Linked DNA regions of Homo sapiens. The protein of the gene in region 1 purifies or fractionates together with the protein of each later gene. This does not show direct contact. Each region holds a gene or a part of one and is shown on either strand. Other genes may lie near its edges.

Region 1 (7,031 bases):
CAAGTGGCCTTAAGAGAAGCCACCAGTGTTCTCAAGCTCCCCCTTCTTCCTCGCTGTCTCTGCTAGGTGAGGACACAACAAGAAAGCGCCGTCTGCCAGCCCGGAAGAGGCTCTCGCCAGCACCCGAGCACACAGCACCCAAACCCTGGCCTTCTGGCCTCCAGAGCCGTGAGGAGTAAACGTCTGCTGTTGCTGCCCCGGCCTGCGGTGCTTTGTGAGGGCAGTCGGAATGGACCATGATGGTCATCTCCCAAAGGTGCTGCAGCCTGCTTCCCCTGTTCCTGTCCGCGCCTCCCCTGCTCCTGTCTGCGCCCCACCCCGCTTCTGTCCGCGCCCCCACCCCGCTCCTGTCCGCGCCTCCCCCCGCTCCTGTCCGCGCCTCCCCCCGATCCTGTCCGCACCTCCCCCGTTCCTGTCCGCACCTCCCTGTTGGGCTTTTCTTTCTCCCAAAGCTCATCCCATGTGGCTCACTCCTGGGCTCCCCGTTCCTCACCTATCAGCTGCTGGACGCGGCTCAGCGGTCTTGGTGCCAGTGAGGGCCCCAGCAGTGCCTGGCACACGGCAGGAGCCTGGTGACCAAGCAGCAGGCATTTACTGTGTATCTGCTGCGTGCGGGACCCTGTGTGCCATTTCCCACACACTGTCCCCTCTGGGCCCTCTTAGGCGCACGGACAGAGGGTGCATCCTCCATCCCGGCGGCTGCCCAAGGGCCACTGGGCTGCTGGAACAGGCGGATGGTGCTGCAGCCACACCTGCCTCGTCCACCCAGGGCCCGAACGCAACAGGCTTACGGGCCCTCAGGCTCGCTGGCCTCTCACCCCTGCCAAGCTCTGTTCCCAGCACTACTGATGGGCCCGTTCCCCAGATGGGGACACTGAGGCACAAGTGGGTCAAGTCACTTGATCAGCTGGCCAGGGCTGGAGCCCACAGCCTAAACTGCAGGGGAGGTTATGCCATGCACATCCCTGACCCCAAGGCCACTCGTTGGGACGTTCAGGGGACTTCTCCCAGGAAGGCTGGTGGCATGCTCCCCCAGTAACTCTTGTGTACCGTGCTCACAACGCCCTGAGCAGGGCCCAGACGGTGGAGGGCTGAGAAGTACGGTCAGCAGGGCCGAGGGCAGTCGCACATCCTGTGGGACAGGCAGGGCCATCGGGGACAGGCCAAGGGCAGGGGGCGGTCCTGCAGGGCTCAGGGCCGGCTCCCTCCTCCCAACATGCCAATCATGCTGCCCGCACCAAGAGTGGCAGCAGAGCCTCCGTCCTGCCTGGCACCCTTGCTGGGGTGGGGGGTGGGCAGCCCAGGAGCAAGTGTGGGAGGCCCGGGCCTGTGCCCTCTGGCCAGGGAGGTGGGGGCTGGTTGCTGTCAGGGTCTCATAGAGGCCACACACCCAGAGGAGCTGGACAAGGGCAGTGGCTGGCAGGGTGGTGACCCCCAGACACACTTCTGGGGCTTCTCTGCTGGCTGGGGAGGGGCCAGCAGAGGGCGGTGAGATTAATACGCTGACTGAGCCGCGCCAAGGCTCTTTGTCCTCCAGCCGCACGTAAGTCTCCTTGTGTTTATCAACGGGACACCAAACCCACCAGCCTCTGCCACGCCCACCGCCCCCATGGACCACGCCCACAACAGCAAGGCCACGCCCCACCGCGTCCCCGCCGGGCTGAAGCCCCACCTCCAGACGACTTCCTCCTCCCTGCCCACACCCCGCTGGGCAGCGCCCTCCTGTGCCCCCAGCCCTGGCGCCCCCTCCGCACGGCCAGGCTCTAGCGCGGCTCTGCACCCCCCTCCCCTCCCGCAGCTCGCAGATCCACCCCGCCCTCCGCACCTGCCGAATGGGGAGGCTGCGTGGGTCCTTCCGTGGCGCCCCCAACCCGCAACGCCGGGTCCAGACTCCCGGCCTCAAGGCCCTGTCCCTGCCAGGCTCAGCTGAGCCGGGGTCTCACCCAGGGCCGCCCAGGCTCTAGGTGTGCAGCCTGCCTCCCACAGCGGCAGCCGGGCGGCGGCCCCAGCCAGGCTGCCGGGCTGCCCTGGGCGGGGAGGAGGACCCTTCCCCAGCCCTGGGGGAGGAGGCGTCCGGCCGGCTGGAAGGGGTCCCGCACTCGGGGCGGCACAGAGGAGCCAGAGAGGGACAGAAGCTGCATTGTTCCAGCGTCCTCCCACTCCGGCCCCCCTTTTCCTTGGCTCCAAGAAAGAAAACGTCGGGAGGACCCAGAGCCGCAGCCTCCGCGGAGCCTTTCCAGAGCTGCTCCCAGCCCTGCTGCCAGTTGCTGCTGGGGTCCCAGATGGTGGCAGTGCCGAGCCAGGGACACAGGAGGGTACTAGGGGTGCCGCAGGAGCTCTCGGCAGAGCTCCCCACCCTTAGGAAACCCCGGCCATGGGTAGAAATAGGCCTGGACATCCTGGGGGGCACATTCCAGCCCATCCCCTACCCACCCACTGCCATCGGTCACAGCACCTTGTCCCACGGACTCGCTGAGGGCCCCAGAGCCTCTGCTCCTTCCTCTGTCTTCAGCCTCTGCGGTGGCTGACATGCACCCCCAATTTCCCAGGAGAGGTCATCGTCAGAAACCCATGAGCACTGTGGCACAAAAACCCAGGGGATGGCTGGGCACGGTGGCTCACGCCTATAATCCCAGCACTTCTGGAAGCCGAGATGGGAGGATCGCTTGAGGCTGGGAGTTTGACACTGGCCTGGGCAACATAGTGAGGCCCTATCTCTATAAAAACATTTAATTATTAAAAATAAGATAAGAAAAAGAAACTCCGGCAGCCCAGCACCACATCCAAGCCTGGTGTTCCCAGCCTGGTCCTTAGCAGGCCTGGGGGGCACCAGGTACGTTCTGGGAGGCAGGCATCCCTTCTCGGGGGCTGGCAAACTCAAGACCTTTGGGAGTGGGGGACACATGGGTGGGGCAGCTGCTCCCCCCAAGCCTGCCCCTCACCCACCTGCCAGCCACCTCAGGAAGTCGGCCCAACCTGGCACCACCCCCCTGGCACCTATTAGTCTTTTCGCTTTGCAGGGGACGTTCTGTCCTGTGTCTGCAGCACTGCTGACCGGCATGGGACGACCAGCGGTCCATGAATGAGGTCACCACGGTGGCCTCGCATGGCCTTGGGCCTTGCCTGATTACTGCCCCAGGCACATAGGGCTCCCACAGCCCAGCCCAGCCCAGCCCAGCCCAGCCCTCTGGCTGATGCCCTCTCGCCTCCCAGCAGCCCTCTCCTACTTGGGTCTGAGGACAGAAGCCCTCCCTGCACCGAGGGCTCCAGGGGGAGGTGGGGGTGGAGGCCCTGGAGCAGCCAGTGGGGCAACAGGCGACCACCTCCTGTCCTTCATCCAGCAGCCCTGCAGCGCCACTCAGGATGCGGGTGGGAAGGGCTCAGGGTGAACCTCAGGCCTGTGCTGTCCCTGAGGCCAAGAAGAACTGGCTTGTAGGCGCCATTTTCTGGCGGCTGCCACCTCCGCCATGCTGGCCTGGCCTCGATCCCACCCCTCCGCAGCTCCTGATGCGGTCCGTGCCTGTGGGGAGCAAGACCCCCCCACAACCCTGGAACTCACCCTGGGCCTCATAGCCGGCCAGGTCAGGCTTCTCTGAGGCTGCCGGGCTGGTCAGGCGGCCGAGCACCAGCTGCAGCTGCGCCACGTTCATGCGGGCCGTGAGCTCCCCATGGCGGTCCCCGATCTGCGGCGAGTGGGGTGGCGGAGCGGGCAGGTGTGGCTGGGGGCCCTGCTGTGGGCTCCAAGGGGACCTTAATGGCCCCCAGTACACCCGTCCCTGACCTTCTGAGTGACCTGAACTGGTCACTGACCCCTGGGCCTCTGAGGGAACCAGGACTCACTGTGGACCCGGAGGTGGAGTCTGGGGGTCTGTCCCTGGGTGAGGTGGCCCCACAGGTCCTCAACAGCCCCTAGTTCACCCCAGAGATGCTTGGGGTCCCAGGCGGTTGGGCCTGTGCCCTCCGGTGCGCGAGGGGCCCGGCCCCGCCCGGCTGCACCTCTCTCAGCCCCTGCCTTGTGCGCCGAGGCTCTGTGGGGGACCCTCCCGGGAACATCCACATCACTCAGGAACTAACTGTTTGCTTAAGTCAAGCAGAAGAGAGGTGGCATGGGGTTGGGGGGAGGGCCACATGGAGCCCTGGAAGGCCCTGGAGGCTGTAGCCTGCACTCAGAGGGACACGGGGGCTGCCTGCTGGCTGCCAGTGAAGCTCTTCAGACGAGGGCTCTGCTGACCTTCCCATGCCCGCCCCTCTCCACCCTCACCTGGGCACCTGCAGGCCTCCCCACCCGGCCACCTCCTACATGGGTCTATGGTGGTCAGTAGGGGCTGGCACCGTCTTTAGCATGAACAGGCTCGGGGTGTGCAGAGGGAGGTGGCGTGGGAGTGGGTGATGTAAGGACAGGCCGGGAGCCGGGAGGCCCACAGTTCATCTGTGATGTTCCGCCCTGACCACAGTAGGAGGGCGCTGATGGGCGGAGCCCACAGAGACCCTGTGCAAACTCTCCAAGGAGGAGGAGACGCAGCTGCCCAGGAAGGCACCAGCTGGGGGCTGCAGGAAAAACCCCCGGGCATGGTAGACATGTCATCACCAGGCCTCGGAAGGACCAGGCAGCTGCAATGGCCCTGAAAGGATGAGGGGGGCCCAGGCACGCACACGCTCGCTCGGGGCAGAGGGGACCCGGCCCGTCTGGAGTGGGCTGGGCAGTGCCCGGGACTTCTGGGGGCAGGCCTGGCTCACCTCCTGGGAGATCTGCAGGTGCTTCTTGGCGAAGGTCAGGGCCTGCGCTGGGCGCCCCATGGACACGTAGGCATTTCCCAGGCTCCAGCACGCCCGGCCCTCGCCCACTCTGCCAGAGAGGGAGACCAGATTCATACCCGCCCTCTCCAGGCCAGCCCCCAGCCCCAGCCCCTCCCCTGGTGGTCACGGCCCCAGCATGACCCTGGCTTCGAGGGTCATCAGGGGCCCCCAGGCCCAAGGGGCATTGGCCGGATGACAGGATAATGCCCCCAGCTGGACCTCCCACAAATTCTGCCACCTTCAAGCATAAGCCCCAATCAGCTCTGCCTTTTTTCTTCCCATTAAAAGGATTAGCGCAGAGTCCAAGCAACCTGGCCTGTGGCCGGCTCTGCCTTTGCGGGCAGTTTCTGGGCCCTTGGCCTCGCTCGCCCCCTGGCGGCCGGCAAGCCTCCTCCCTTGCACTCCCTCCACCCTTACGGGCACCCTCCAAGTCACTGGGTGAGGGGGTTGTTTTTATATTGGAGGGAAATGCGTCTAACAGGAATTTGATCATTTTCACGTGGACGATCCACTGGCATTTTGTACATTCATGCTGTGCAACCGGCACCTCTGTCTATTCCAGAACATTCTCCTCACCACGCCACAAAGGAAAACCTTGGGCCACTTTTAAGCCTCCAGGCAGGGCAGCCTTTCAAAAGACCTCTCCTCTCTGCTGCCTGTGAAAGGCCACAGGCCTGTGGCTCTGAGCCCCTTGTTCCGGCCACCACCCACCCCAGACCTGCACACAAGACAGTACTTAGGGGCCTGTGGTTTGCCAGCCTGTCTCTCTCCAGAGAGTGATATTTACATACATACATGGGTGGTGGGGGCAACAGGGTGGCGAATTGAGGGATGGGAGGGGGACCCCACCCGCTTGTGCCAGGGGTCAGTGGCCGGCCCAATGTCCACACTGTCTGGCTCAGTCCCCACAGTGGCGTTGCCACTCCTGGGTCACAGCATGGTCAGTGGCAGAGCAGGGGATGGGACCCAGGCCACCTCGCCTGGGCCGCGGTAATTCAGCCTGTGGGCCGGGCCGGGTCTGCCCGCCGCGTCCGCGCCCACGCACCTGTCGGCCAGCTCCTGGGCAATGAGCAGGTGCCGCAGGTGGTACTCGGCCGCGCGCTCGTAGTCCTGCAGCAGCGTGTAGGTGTTGCCCAGACTGTAGCAGGCCTGCGCCTCCACTGCCTGGTCCCTGAGCTGCCGAGACAGTTGCAGCGTCTTCCTGTGCAGAGTGGCAGGGTCAGCCCCCAGGAGGAGGGCTCCAGGGTGAGGGGTGGAAGGTAAGAATGGGGACGCAGTCTGCCCGATGGTCCCCTGCCCCGGAATCCCACTGGGGCCTCTCTGGGGTCCAGCTTCATCCCCACCCTCACATGGCCACAGAGCGGGACTGTTGGCCCCAGGGGGACGGGGGGTCCTGCCAGGCTCTGGCAAGTTGCCTGACCACCCTGAGCCGCCACCACTCCTCCCCGGAGGACCTGAGACTGCTGTGCCCACTGCTCAGGCTGAGATGGGGTTAAGTTTAGGGCTGGGCACAGGACCCCGTGCTGACAGCCGGGCTCCACCCGGCAGGCGCTGCTCTGTGGCTCAGGCCAGGAGGCAGATGGCCCAGACCTCCCATAGGCCGGCTCCCCCACCGCCTGCCTCCCCATGAGCTTTGTCCGTCTGCCCTTCCCGGGGCAGCCTAGAACCCCACCTTGCCTTCTGGGGAGGGGAGGGGAGGCAGTCAGATTCCCAGCTTGGGGCGGGCACTTCCTTGGCCTGGCATCCAGCCCCCCCGGCCTGCTGTCTCCCTGGGAGATTGTGGGGACCACCTACTTGTAGTACTCGGCGGCCACGTCAAAGCGCCCCAGGAAGACGTGGGCGTTCCCCAGGTTGCTGTAGGCCCTCCTCTCGGCTGCCTTGTCTCCAAACTCCTTAGCAATGGCCAGGCGCTGCGGAGACACACCGGAGGCCAGGTGGTCATGGCGCAGCCCCGGGGCCTGACGTGGGCGGACAGGGGCTGCCTCCCTGCCCAGGTGGCCGGCCAGAGATCTGTGTGTCCGGGTGAGCAGCTAGCAGCTGCAGGACCAAGTGCAGATGAGGCCAGGACTCGGTGGGGCGGGCCTGCTGCCTGGCCATACCACCCTGCCCTTTCAGGGACCGCCAAGAGGGTGGCTCAGCCCTGCCCCTGCAGCAGCCCGGCCCCTCCACCCTGTCACCCTGCCCGGCTCACCTCCTTGTGGAAGGTCGTGGCCTCTGTGAAGTTCCCCAACAAA
Region 2 (5,114 bases), on another chromosome or scaffold:
GCCCAGCATGCAGAGGTGTGTACTCAGTGCTGTGTGAGATGCCTGTGGGCCCAGGCACGGAGGGATGCATGCGTGCCCAGAAAGCAAAAGGCTGTGCAGAGGACCTGCTAGGAGGTAATGACTAGAGAACATGTTTTTAAGCAAACAGGTGAAGGGAAAATGCAAAATAAGGAGCTACATAAGCATCACATCTTAAGAATCATTATGGAGCACCTAACTGTGACTTGTTGGGCTGGGAGCCAAACAACATAGGTGGGACACGCTGCACATAAAAGTAACAAGCTGGAGGTCCAGAGGAACCCTTGGAGCCGTCCCAAGACTGAGAGCCGGTGTCAGGCACCACCTCTTCTGGGCACCTGGGCTATGGCAGTGGGGAGGATGAGCCCCTGATCCCAGAGGCCACTCTCTCACACAGTGCAGTGCAGTCTTTCTCACACAGGACCTAGTGTAACACGGGACCTAATGGCAGGACACATCAACCCATTAAAAATCCAAGCAAGGTACAAGAGATTTCTAGAAACAAAGAATCAGGCTTTATTTTTGTTATTTTGAATACAGGTATTGTATTGTAGACATCTGTTAGTCTCATAATTCAGTATGGCCAACACACAGAAATTAAAAGTAGAAACAAAATGAGGGCACACTTGCTCCTGTCCTTGGCTTGGCCCCTCCAACCTCCAAAAGAACTGTCCTCCCCATTGTCATATCCTTTCCCTGCTACGAAAGACAAAACAAAATGATGCCCCAAAGAAAAGTCCCAGAGGCTCTCTCCCAGCAGTCAGTGGGATGAAGCAAGACACTGTTACCTTGGGTAGGATGGAGAAGCCACCAGGTCCATACCACAGAGGCCACAGTGGGATGGAGAAGCCACCAGGTCCATACCACGGAGGCCACGTGTGCCACCAGTGGAGCCAAACCCTGGCCATGGCTGGCAAAACTCACCACCAGGCGAGACCAGAGCATATTATCTACCAGTAATCCCCGAGGTCCAACGCCATTCAAGTCAGGCAGCCCTGAGGCAAGCAGGAGGAGCCCTGTCCTCTGGGGGTGCTGCTTCCAGAGGAGGCCCAAGGACAGTCTCTTCAGAGAGGGGCTCACCCGGGAAAGGGGGTTCCTGAGGAGGCGTGCAAAGGTCAAGGGACCCACCCTTGCCACCTGTCCCAGGGCTTACTGCTGACTCCACTGTCCTGGGAGTGCTGGAATCTCCACACCACTTAAAATGAAAAAGGAAATCAGAAATAATAAGGCATTAGACGTTTGATTCTTTTATTTCCATATGCAATGTAATGTTTAGGCACGCTGCTTGGGATGCTACTTCTAAAAAAATTGTTGGCCATTTTTCAGAATATCCTTTTGGTTTTAAATACTGGTCAGGAAAAACAAATGATGTAAAAATACGTGAATAATTTTCTATTACAGAAATGAAAAACTGATTTGCATCTAAAAGTGCAAGAGGTGAAGTAATTTAACCCTTTCACCAGACGATATGGCAATATACAATATATTGCTTGAGCTGTTTGAGAAGGCTGTGATGTATTTTTGTATTGACATAGAAAATTATAAATTACATTGAATTAGTATCCATAATCACTATATATATACACAAACCAGTTCTAAAAAAATACACTGGTTTAAATTTATGAGTGAAAACCTCACAAGGTACAGTAAACAATTAGCATGCTTCGGTGCCAGATTTTGATTTCTACTTTTAAAATACTAGCCTGTAAAATGAACGCACTCTAATTCCATTAGCAGCACGAGCATTTTCAACTGACTTGCCTAATAGGATTTATTTTAGGTCTGTTAAATATGCAGATTGCTCTGAAATGTTCATTGGTGATGCTTGTTAACAAGGTAAATTTTGGTGAATGGGTTAAAAGGCAGATGAACTACCAAATGAAACAAAAAAACAAACAAAAACAAAAGCCAAAAAAAAAAAAAAAAAATCCCAAAACACAAGCCATATACACTCCAAATAGTCTAGTGTTTCACTTGTAGGAATAATCATTTCAAGCAAACAAGACTTGAACAGAACATATGGCTTTACGATAACATCAATTTATCAACTATGATGTAGCAATAAATACTTTACTTAATCTCTACCAATAGACTTACATTTTTGATCCGTTTTAAACAATACAGAAAACAATTACCAATCAAAAACTGGTTATAAAAAGAACACCAAATATTTCTTATTCAAAATCACTTTTGTAAGTTAGAACAACCAAAATAACACTTAGAGGGCATTTTCATTCTACAACTCCTTGTCGGCCTGGAGGAAAAATGAATTCATAATTTTGTACAAGGTGAAAAATGTATGAAAACCGCCTAATACTTTGGTCACACTAATAATTGTCAAAGTTATGTTTCAAATACAATAGATCTGTGTATTCACTTTTATAAAACTATTCTTACAGCCATTTTAACTATAGTATTACTACTATTATTACATGGGTGGCAAGATCTTATTTCACAGGCTACCCATTATTTAGAACAATACAATATAAACATACGCAAAAATTCTTGGTATTTGTCAATGTGCAATATTTTTACACTTCTGAATTTCTCTGTACAATGTCTTAGAATCTAGAATATAAAGGTTGCTGGTCCTGATCCCTTGCAGAGTGAGTGCAGCAGTGACAGCTTGGTGGGCTCCAGCTGACCCCTCCAGAGCCCCTGAGTGGTGGCGGTCTGCAGTCCTCAGTCAGCAGCAGCAGACGTCACCCGTCATACAGGGCCATTCACTGAAGTGTCACCTGGTGCGCTTGGTTGGCCAGTCCTAAGGAGCAACAGACAGGCATCGGAGGCACTTGCAGCAGAAATATGAAAAACAAAACCTACTTAGCTGAGCTCCCCAAGGGCAGGGACAACTTATTTTAACATTGTTTTGAACTTAGTAAGTTTTTAATAAAATGATATGTAAATGAATGGAGCAAAAGCTCTAGAAAAATCTGAGTGAGTGCATCTAAGCTTCATCACCGGGTGAGCAGGCATTCAGCAAGGGCAGCAGCAGAGCAAATGCTCTGGGAGAACCGCCCCACCGCGGCCTCCAAGAAGCACAGGGAGTGACTAGGTCAGTGGGGTATAAACTGTGGCTTCCAGAGCCTTCAGGAGCTATGTGTTCACCGCTCCTTCAAGAAAGCTTTTATGTGACCCACAGATTGGAATCCACATACTATTTCACTTGGAAACAGGATTCTGCTACTAGGAAAGGGGGGAAAAAAGGAAAGGAAAGGAGGTTTGCAAATAAACTACTGGAAAAAAAAAAAAAGGTGTCCACTTGAAGAACATGTCCCACAAAGCAAATGTTAGGCTCAAAACTGGGAGGGAATAACAGGTGGGACAGTATATAACAAAGTGTCCAGGTTTTGCCTTCCTGCCAAAATTACAACCTGAATATATAACCTATTCGGGAAGGCTTGACCAAAATTGTATCAAGCAGACTTGGGAAAGGGTGCTTAGGGCCGTAACTGGGATGCCCACAAGCACTTTTCCACTAGCATTCACAATTTACAGCTAGAATGCTACTCATGCCTTATACCTGCTGGTTATACAGTGAGCCAAAAAGTCAGCTCTGCACACACAATCCACTCTGCTCACTTACTTACATCTGATGGTGGCTCCGTGTATGAGAGACATAGGAATCGAGACTTCTGGAACTAGACATAACTGGTATATAACTAACTTGCCTTCACTTAAACAAGCTGAGTGATCTTATAAGTAGATTTCTTAGCCCCTCTCAGTTCTGTTTTCTCCTCTGTAAAATGGGAAAAGAACCCTCCCCACGCCCCACAGGGCTTCACTAGTATACATATGAAATAAGTACATAATGTGTGCAGCATGCTCAGCACATCAGAAGCACAAAGGACATGCTTGATAAAACAGCTGTGAAAAGTGAGATCATGTGGCAATGCAGATCTTTAAGTGTGACAGGAAACAGCGCGCCTGCCAATCCAAGGAACTGTGGTATCTGGCTGGGACGGGAACCACACAGGAAAGACGGGTGAGCTTCAATATCCCATGCTGTCATACGTCACTTTAGAACACGTGCAATCTAGGACGCACTCTAGGTCTGCCCTAATGCCCACTCCAACGTCACCTCAGAGATCCTCTCCCCCGCACCCCAGCTCACATGGACCCCTGTCCCTTCTTCGTGGCTTCTTGATGAATGTGCCTCTAGTATGCCCCGAGACCACTGGGTGTCCGTGTGCTGCAGCTTTATGACCCGGCCTAGACCAGTGGCCACCACACACAAACGTGTGTCAGAGGAAAGAAGGACAGATGGATAAAGGCATGGACCCAAGTGATGCCCCTCTTCTTCCACTGGCTGACCCCATCTTTTCCTCCATCCCTTGGCCCGGCAGGTTAGGGCAGGGCTCTTCAGAGCAGGCATTCCCAGCCACAGAGGAGAGCAAGTGGCTTCCCCTTATGCAAACAATTCTTCTGTGCTCAGAAAGCCAAGGAAATGACTCCAGAGCCTTGTGCATCCTTATGACAGAGAAACCAAGAATATTCCCCTGAAGCAACTGCCCCAAACTGGGATAGACCTGGACGATCCTGCCTAGGCAGCCCTCAATATAAAGGAAATTTATAGGTAGAAATCAGAGAGCTGAAATAATTGATTGGGAATGAGACCTATAAAGGACCATTAAAAAATACATTGAAACCCCAAGAAAGAGAGTGACTTGCCCAATCCGTAGAAGCAGAGTTGAGGCAGCTTCCCAGTGCTAGAGGGCCACCCTGCCTCTTCCCCCAAAAGCCTTCACTAGAGCCAACATGCTCAAATAGTTCTTAATTTGTTTGTTTTATATGCAAAAAAAATATTTCTAATCACAAAAACAAAGGCTTTATTTTGGCTACAATTTCCACAGGAGGAACACAAACAGCTTGCTACACTGTGAATACAGGATTTTGGACCAACAAAGAGTGCTCCCTGCTGGTTCCCACTGGTTATGCTCTCATACAATGCTGGCAAGATTTGGGGGAGGATGGGGTGGGGGTGGGGGGTTAAAACTTCTCTGAAATAGCTTTAAAGGTCATTTTATTCCTTATGGAAGGAATATACAATCTTAGCTACATTTGTTCACAGAAGTTGATTGTGGGAAGTGCTGAAC
Region 3 (6,904 bases), on another chromosome or scaffold:
TACTTTAATGTTATTCACTTAATTTATTTAACCAATCCCAAGTTGACAGAAAACTGTTTTCAGTTTTGGGAAATTACTAACATTTGGAATTTGATTTGTTGCTAGCCTATTCCTGCCCTCTCTCAGGCAAGTTGCAACATGATAACACAGGAAGCTTTGAGGAATAATCACATAAATCTGATAGGAGATTCAACAGCCTGGCCCGAGAGTTTCTGATGATGGACTGATGGTGGAAAAAAAATCAAAGGCTGCTATGAAAAATCTGCCACATATTTAGCCAGGCATGGCAGCTCACGCCTATAGTCCCAGCTACTTGGGAAGCTGAGGTAGGAGTATGGCTCAAGCCCAGGAGTTCGAGGCTGCAGTGAGCTATGACTGTGCCACTGCACTCCAGTCTGGGCAACAGAGCGAGACCCTGTCAAAAGAAAAAGAAGAAAAATCTGCCACATAATCTAATATATTCTGGGAGGTTATATTCCCAGGTGCCAAAAGGAGGACCAAGATTCAACCTGGCTCCTGTCCACCCCCCTCTACTACCATCTCATCCTCAACTCCAATTCTGCAGTCTAGCCAAATGCAACCACTCACCATAAGTTCCCTGCACCTGCCACTGGGCCTCTAAGTGGAACAGTGTCTCCTTCCAGCTCTGTCTGCTTGGAATATAGTTTTTCTCTCCTCCTTTTGCTTTGCTAATTCTTATTTCAGGGCTCAGATCAGGTTTCAACTTTTCTGAGAAGTCTACCTTTATCCTCAAATCTGTAATTGTAGTGCTATGATTGCCATGGTAGCACTCGTAACACTGTAATTATCTGCTTACTATCTGTATGTCCATAAACACCAGCAGGGCAGAAACCATATTTTTTCTTACAGTTGTATCTCATAGTGCCGGCAAGTAGTAGGTGCTTAACAAACACATTAAAAATTGCAACTAAATAATACTACAAAGGAGAGGGCCATGAGGTTGCTGTAATTGAGGGATCTGACCTGGTCTGAACAGTCTACAGGAAGACATTCCTGAAGAAGTGACTGAGAGAAATCTAAAGGATAAGTACAAATTAACTTATGGGGTAGGGGGTGGTGTGGAATGAGCATTCCAGGCAGATGTGACTGCTATATGCAAAGGTTCTATGGTGGAAGGGTACTTGGAAATTTTGAAGACCTTAAAGGTTATATAACTGAAGGGGAGAGAAGGATGAATATGTATGGTTAGACTGGAGGCTGGAGAGATGGGAGCAATAGGAAACCACATAGTATTAATATTAAATGGGGGCTGGCTGGGCGTGGCGGCTCACGCCTGTAATCTCAGCACTTTGGGAGGCCAAGGTGGGCAGATCACCTGAGGTCGGGAGTTCGAGACCAGCCTGACCAACATGGAGAAACCCCGTCTCTACTAAAAATATAAAATTAGCCGGGTGTGGTGGCGCATGCCTGTAATCCCAGTTACCTGGGAGGCTGAGACAGGAGAATTGCTTGAAACCGGGAGGTGGAGGTTGCTGTGAGCCGAGATTGCGCCATTGCACTCCAGCCTGGGCAGCAAGAGCGAAACTCTGTCTCAAAAAGAAAAAAAAAAAATTGGGGGTGGGGTAGAGAGTGAACAGTATCAGCTTTGCATTTTGAAGGATCACTCTGGTTGCAGTGCGCAAATATGGCTGGGAGGGAAGGCAGGAAGGATGTGATGGTAGCTAGGACCTATATAAAAGATATTCAGGAAGTAAAGCTGATAAGACTTAGTGATAGATGGGAAATGGAAGAGGTATTAAGTAAATGGAAGAGGTACTAACTTGGGTTTTGGGCTTGGGTATATTGTGGATAAAGGTAGGAGCACTGGAAGAGATCCAGGCTTGGAGGAAAAGGTTGGGATACACAGAGATTGTTTCAATTTCAGAAATGTAGAGTTTGGGTTGCCTTTGAGGTATCCTAAAGGAGATGTTGAGGCAATTGGCTATATAGATCTGGAGCTTAGAGATGAGGGCTGGGCTTGAGATACACACTTGTGTACATTTGCATACAGGTGGAAAATGAAGTTGTGGGTGTGGAGGGGTACCCAAGAAGAGAATATAGAGTGCAGTGGCAAGAGGGCGTAGGACCAAACCTGGGAGAACTTTAAGGTAGTAAGTGGACCAGTCAGGGCCAGCTAGTCACCAGCTAGAAACCAGCTAATCATGGTCACTTCAGACATGGGTGCTGTGTTAGCCCTTCTGTTTCCTGTTTAGTTAAAAATGTTCAAGTCTCATTGTCTTAGTCTCTCTAGTTCCTTTTCCCCATTAAAAGTTTCAGGGGAGGATCTGAAATTCATTCCAGCTGAAGTGTAAATAATACAAAGTAGGCCACACAGGTTCCTTTTCCCTGGGGCAGTTTAACTTGTTCCTTGGAACAAGTCCTTCCGCTATAGAGGCAGTAGGCTGAAGCTAAAGAGACTTAGCTGGAAGTCGGAGAACTGGAGTCTAGTTCTAGCTCTGTCACTAATTTGGTGTGTGGCCTTGGGCAAGTCCCTTTTCTCTGGGTTTCAGTTTTCCAATCTGTGAAATGAAGATAAATATCCTTGACTCACAGAGCTGTTAAGAGTATCAAAAGAGAGACTGTGAAAGCACTGGGTAGGTTACTAAATGTAATAGATCTGTCGTGAGTACTAAAAAAAATGAAGCTCTAACTGTAGAGCTTTGAGTAGCGGACCACGGAGAAGGTGTGGGGAGAAAAGGGAATCTGGGGACAGATTGAGAAGGGGTTTTACTCCTTGGAAGAAGAAGGAATGAGGCACTTCACGCCCCAGGAAGTTTCCTACATCTCTAGAATTAGGGTAGCGACTGCGATTTACTCAATCTAATGCTAACCGCATGTCTTGGAAGAGGGTCTCAGTTCCTCAGAGGAAAACCAACCCCATTTCTGAGGGCGTTTCTGATCTCCCAGGTTATGCCTGGAACTTGAAGCATCCGATTTTGGGAGCTTTATGTTTGCGTTGGGGGCGGGGTTCGTTGTTTTGTTTTGTTTTTGTTTTGTTTCGTTTTGTTTTGTTTTGAGATGGAGGTATCGCTCTATAGCCCAGGCTGGAGTGTAGTTGCGTGATCACGGCTCACTGCAGCTTCAATCTCCGGGCTCAAGCGATCCTTCTACCTCAGCCTCCCTAGTAGCTGGGGCCACTGGAGCGCGCCACCAAGCCCGGCTAATTTTTTTATGTTTTTGGTAGAGACAGGGTTCGCCATGTTTCTCAGGCTGGTCTCGAACTCCTGGCCTTAAGTGGTCCGCCCGCCTTGGTCTCCCAGTGTTGGGATTACAGGCGTGAGCCACCGCTCCCGGCCCTGGGGGTGGTTCTTAAGCATCCCCAAATCTGTATGGATATATATCTCAACGCCTATCCCTCCCTCTGCTCCCCCTCGCCCAGTCTGTCCCATGTGAGTGTTGTATCTTGTTCGCTGTGAAAGGTGATGAGGGTCGGTGGGGGAAATCTCAGATCCCCGAGCAGGAAGGTTCTTAGTCGTTCTGTGAGTGCCCCTCCCTTCTCCATAGATCTCTTGTCCCCTAGAACGGGTTTCCTGTTTTCCCGCCCGACTCACCCGCAGTCGCTTCCTCTCCAGTCTTGGCGTCCCACTGCCTCAGGGTTACTCAGAGCAACTCCATGGCAACTGCTTTCGTCACCACAACCCGGCAGGCGCCATAAGTACTGACGCGATGCTTACCGGGACCTTCAGTTTGTCAGGGGCGGGGCTTCAAGGCCGCGGGTGACGCTGGGATTTGTAGTTCTCTTTGCCTTCAAGTACAGGCCGGGGTCCGGAAGCGGTGATACCCCTTCTCTTTCCCAGTGGCCCTCAAACTTCCTTTTCCCGGGTCCTTAAGCGGGCCCCGCCGACAGAGGCCAATCAGAGGGCAGCGCGAGGGGGCGGGGCCATAGTTTAAACTAATTGTGCGCTCACAGCGCTGGCGCGAGCCCACGAAGAGGTACGATTCCGGAGAATCGCGAGGCAGAGCGGGAGCGCGCAGCCAGGTAACCGGCGCGGGCCCGCGTTTGGCGTGCGGCCTGGGCACCCCTGCGGGTGCTCAGGCCTAAAAGGGGTGCTGGAGAGGCCGCTGCGAGCGGAAGGCCTCCTCCATAACCGAGTCCGAAAGGGCAGAATCTATGGGGGTAAGGTTTGTGAGGAGAGGCGCCTGAGAGGGAGGAGCCGGGGGGGGGGGGGGTGCCTTAAAGGGGAGGGTCTGTTTGGGGGCGTGTCTGTGGAATTAAATCTGAAGGTGACTGGGGTCGGGGGTATAGGGCAAGTTCCCGAAAGGCTTGTAAGCGAGGGGTCGGGTCCTGGAAAGTCTTTGCCTTTTATCGTTAACAATAGCAGTAGTTATGGTAGTGCAGTAGTCAGCATTTTCTGAGCTACACCGTCCACAATGACCTGCCAAATGTTTATCTTTTTAATCTTCTAACCACCTGTTATACTTTAAAGATGGGGAGCCTGAGGTTTATAATGTTTAGCTTGGCCCGGGTTACGTAGCCAGTGCGAGGTTGGCTCTACTTTGGGTTTATGGGTTGGGCATAAATGGGGACGGGGAAGGTGCTTTGTGGGGGCGCGCGTTGTCTTGGACTGGTCAGTGTATTTTGAGCCTCACTTTTCATATATGTAAACAATGACCTTACCTGCCTTACCTACTTCCTGGGGTGGTTGTCCTGGTCAAAACAGGTTAAGTCTTTTTTTTTTTTTTTTTTAATTTTTGTTTGTTTTTGTTTTTCATCCATGGACTCTCACAGATAACATGTTTCATACACGCACCTCGGAGAGTACAAATTTATGACTATAAGTGGTGTGACTGTGTGAAGATTGTGGGTGGGCGGGAGCCCACTGGGTTGATGCTGCCGCCTCTGGGTACTCTCTTTTGCTTACCTCTGAGTTAGCACTTGTCATTTTTTTTTTTTTTTGAGACGGAGTCTCGCCCTATCGCCCAGGCCGGAGTGCAGTGGCGCGATCTCGGCTCACTGCAACCTCTGCCACCCGGGTTCAAACAGTTCCCTGCCTCAGCCTCCCGAGTAGCTGGGATTACAGGCGCCCGCTACCACACCCGGCTAACTTTTGTATTTTTAGTAGACACAGGGTTTCACCATCTTGGCCAGGCCGGTCTTGAACTCTTGACCTCGTGATCCGCCCGCCTCGGCTTCCCAAAGTGCTTGGGATTACAGGCGTGAGCCATCACGCCCGGCCTGCCATCTGGTATTTTAAAAGTCTGCGTGTTTGTCTGCCCTTCTAGATAACGAGAGACTTTTTCGTCACTGTATCCTAATGGCTAGGCAGGATTTGCGACATGTAATGGGAATAAATGTATGCTTTGGAATAATTTCTTGGGCTGAAAGGGCACAGGAATTTCGCTTTCCCGTTTTCATTTAGTGGCATTTGAACCTCAGTATTAAGCTGTCCTCTTTACTGGAATGGCACTCCCTCTTGAAAACGTGATGATATTTTCTTGCTTTAATACATAATTCCCTCTCTCTAGTATCTGTTGCCTGGTTCTATGTTTCCAAACTTCTGGGTTGTCTGGTCGTTAAAGCTTTAATGGTAAGGGAGTTGGGCCTCTCTGCTTTGTGGAGATCTTTACTGCTGTGAATATATGGGAACCTGGGGCGAACATGAGGATCATGTAAGGTAGCTTTCTGTCAGCACAGATGGGTTTATGTTTCCTCAGTCCCTCTTTCTGTGTGGTATTTTCTTCTTTAGAGGAAGAACCACATACTTTTTTGTGAAAGCTTCCAAAGTATTCTTTTCGTAGCCTAAGTTCTAGCAAGGGATGACTAATTGTAATGTCTAAGCTCTTAGTTCACAGCGAAAAGCGGTACATTCCAAAAGCTTAAAGATCTTACCTGAAAGCTCGTTAAGAAACGTAGAATTCTTTTTTACATGTGGAACATGGAAGTGGGAAGAATGCCTTGAAATAAGACTTGAATTCTAGAACTTTTAGGATGAGGGCAAAGCCCTGCTCAGGTGGCTGAACAGAGCTGATCAGGGGCTGTTTGGACAGCTGTGTCTAATTGATAAAACTATGATCAGAAGATATTAGGTTTGTGCAAAAGTAATTGCAGTTATTGCCATTGAAAGTAATGGCAAAAACCACAGTTACTTTTGCATTAACCTAATATATGGTGTGGTCATTTAATTTAGCCTCTTACCCAGTGTACACTAAACATACCAAAAGGTGTTGTCCAGACTCAAAATGAGTACTTTCTAGAATGAGATCATTCCCAAAGTCAATCCATCTCTAAGCTGAACAATTCTAATTGATAATTATTATTTTGTAGCTGGGCATGGTGGCTTGCCCTGTCATCCCAACTACTCTGGAGGCTGAGGCAGGAGGAGCAGGCGGGAGAATGGCTTGAGCCCAGGAGTTCTTAGCTAGCCTGGGCAACAGAGTGAGACCCCAACACAATTAAAATATGTTTATTGTTTTGTATTGTTAGTGATTATTTCATTTTACCCATGTATGTCTACTGTTTGCTTTTTCACTATTTTTCCTTGCATTTTATTCCTTCCTTTTTTATTGCATAGATACATACATCCTTCAGATGTTTGTCCAGTGGGAATCTGTTAGTGGTAAACACTGTCTTCATTTAAAAAATCTTTATTTCACTTTCAGTTTTTTGTTTTTTTTTTTTTTTTGAGATGGAGTCTCACTCTGTTGCCCAGGCTGGAGTGCAGTGGCACAGTCTCGGCTCACTGCAAGCTCCGCCTCCCAGGTTCACACCATTCTCCTGCCTCAGCCTCCCGAGTAGCTGGGACTACAGGCGCCCGCAACCACGCCTGGCTAATTTTTTGTATTTTTAGTAGAGACAGGGTTTCATTGTGTTAGCCATGATGGTCTCGATCCCCTGACCTTGTGATCCTCCCGCCTCGGCCTCTCAGAGTGCTGGGATTATAGGCATGAGCCACTGTGCCCAGCT

What was found. The genes of interacting proteins can lie anywhere in the genome.
Region 2: the proteins of GPSM1 (region 1) and PPP6R3 purify together in Homo sapiens (affinity purification with mass spectrometry; 3 studies listed by BioGRID and IntAct, with this or other methods). This does not show direct contact.
Region 3: the proteins of GPSM1 (region 1) and NUMA1 purify together in Homo sapiens (affinity purification with mass spectrometry; 3 studies listed by BioGRID and IntAct, with this or other methods). This does not show direct contact.

What each region holds. Positions count from the first base shown.
Region 1 is NC_000009.12:136,337,522-136,344,552, reverse strand, and holds part of GPSM1 (G-protein-signaling modulator 1), read right to left. Parts: coding exon 6,989-7,031; intron 6,708-6,988; coding exon 6,592-6,707; intron 5,999-6,591; coding exon 5,843-5,998; intron 4,847-5,842; coding exon 4,738-4,846; intron 3,684-4,737; coding exon 3,560-3,683; coding exon of another isoform or gene 3,393-3,559; exon of another isoform or gene 2,715-3,392; intron 1-2,714. UniProt on the Homo sapiens protein: Guanine nucleotide dissociation inhibitor (GDI) which functions as a receptor-independent activator of heterotrimeric G-protein signaling.
Region 2 is NC_000011.10:68,610,731-68,615,844, reverse strand, and holds the end of PPP6R3 (serine/threonine-protein phosphatase 6 regulatory subunit 3), read right to left. Parts: intron 2,810-5,114; coding exon of another isoform or gene 2,780-2,809; coding exon 2,728-2,779; 3' UTR 1,214-2,727; coding exon of another isoform or gene 1,168-1,213; 3' UTR 511-1,167; downstream 1-510.
Region 3 is NC_000011.10:72,077,533-72,084,436, reverse strand, and holds the start of NUMA1 (nuclear mitotic apparatus protein 1), read left to right. Parts: upstream 1-3,894; 5' UTR 3,895-3,979; exon of another isoform or gene 3,980-4,117; intron 4,118-6,904. UniProt on the Homo sapiens protein: Microtubule (MT)-binding protein that plays a role in the formation and maintenance of the spindle poles and the alignement and the segregation of chromosomes during mitotic cell division.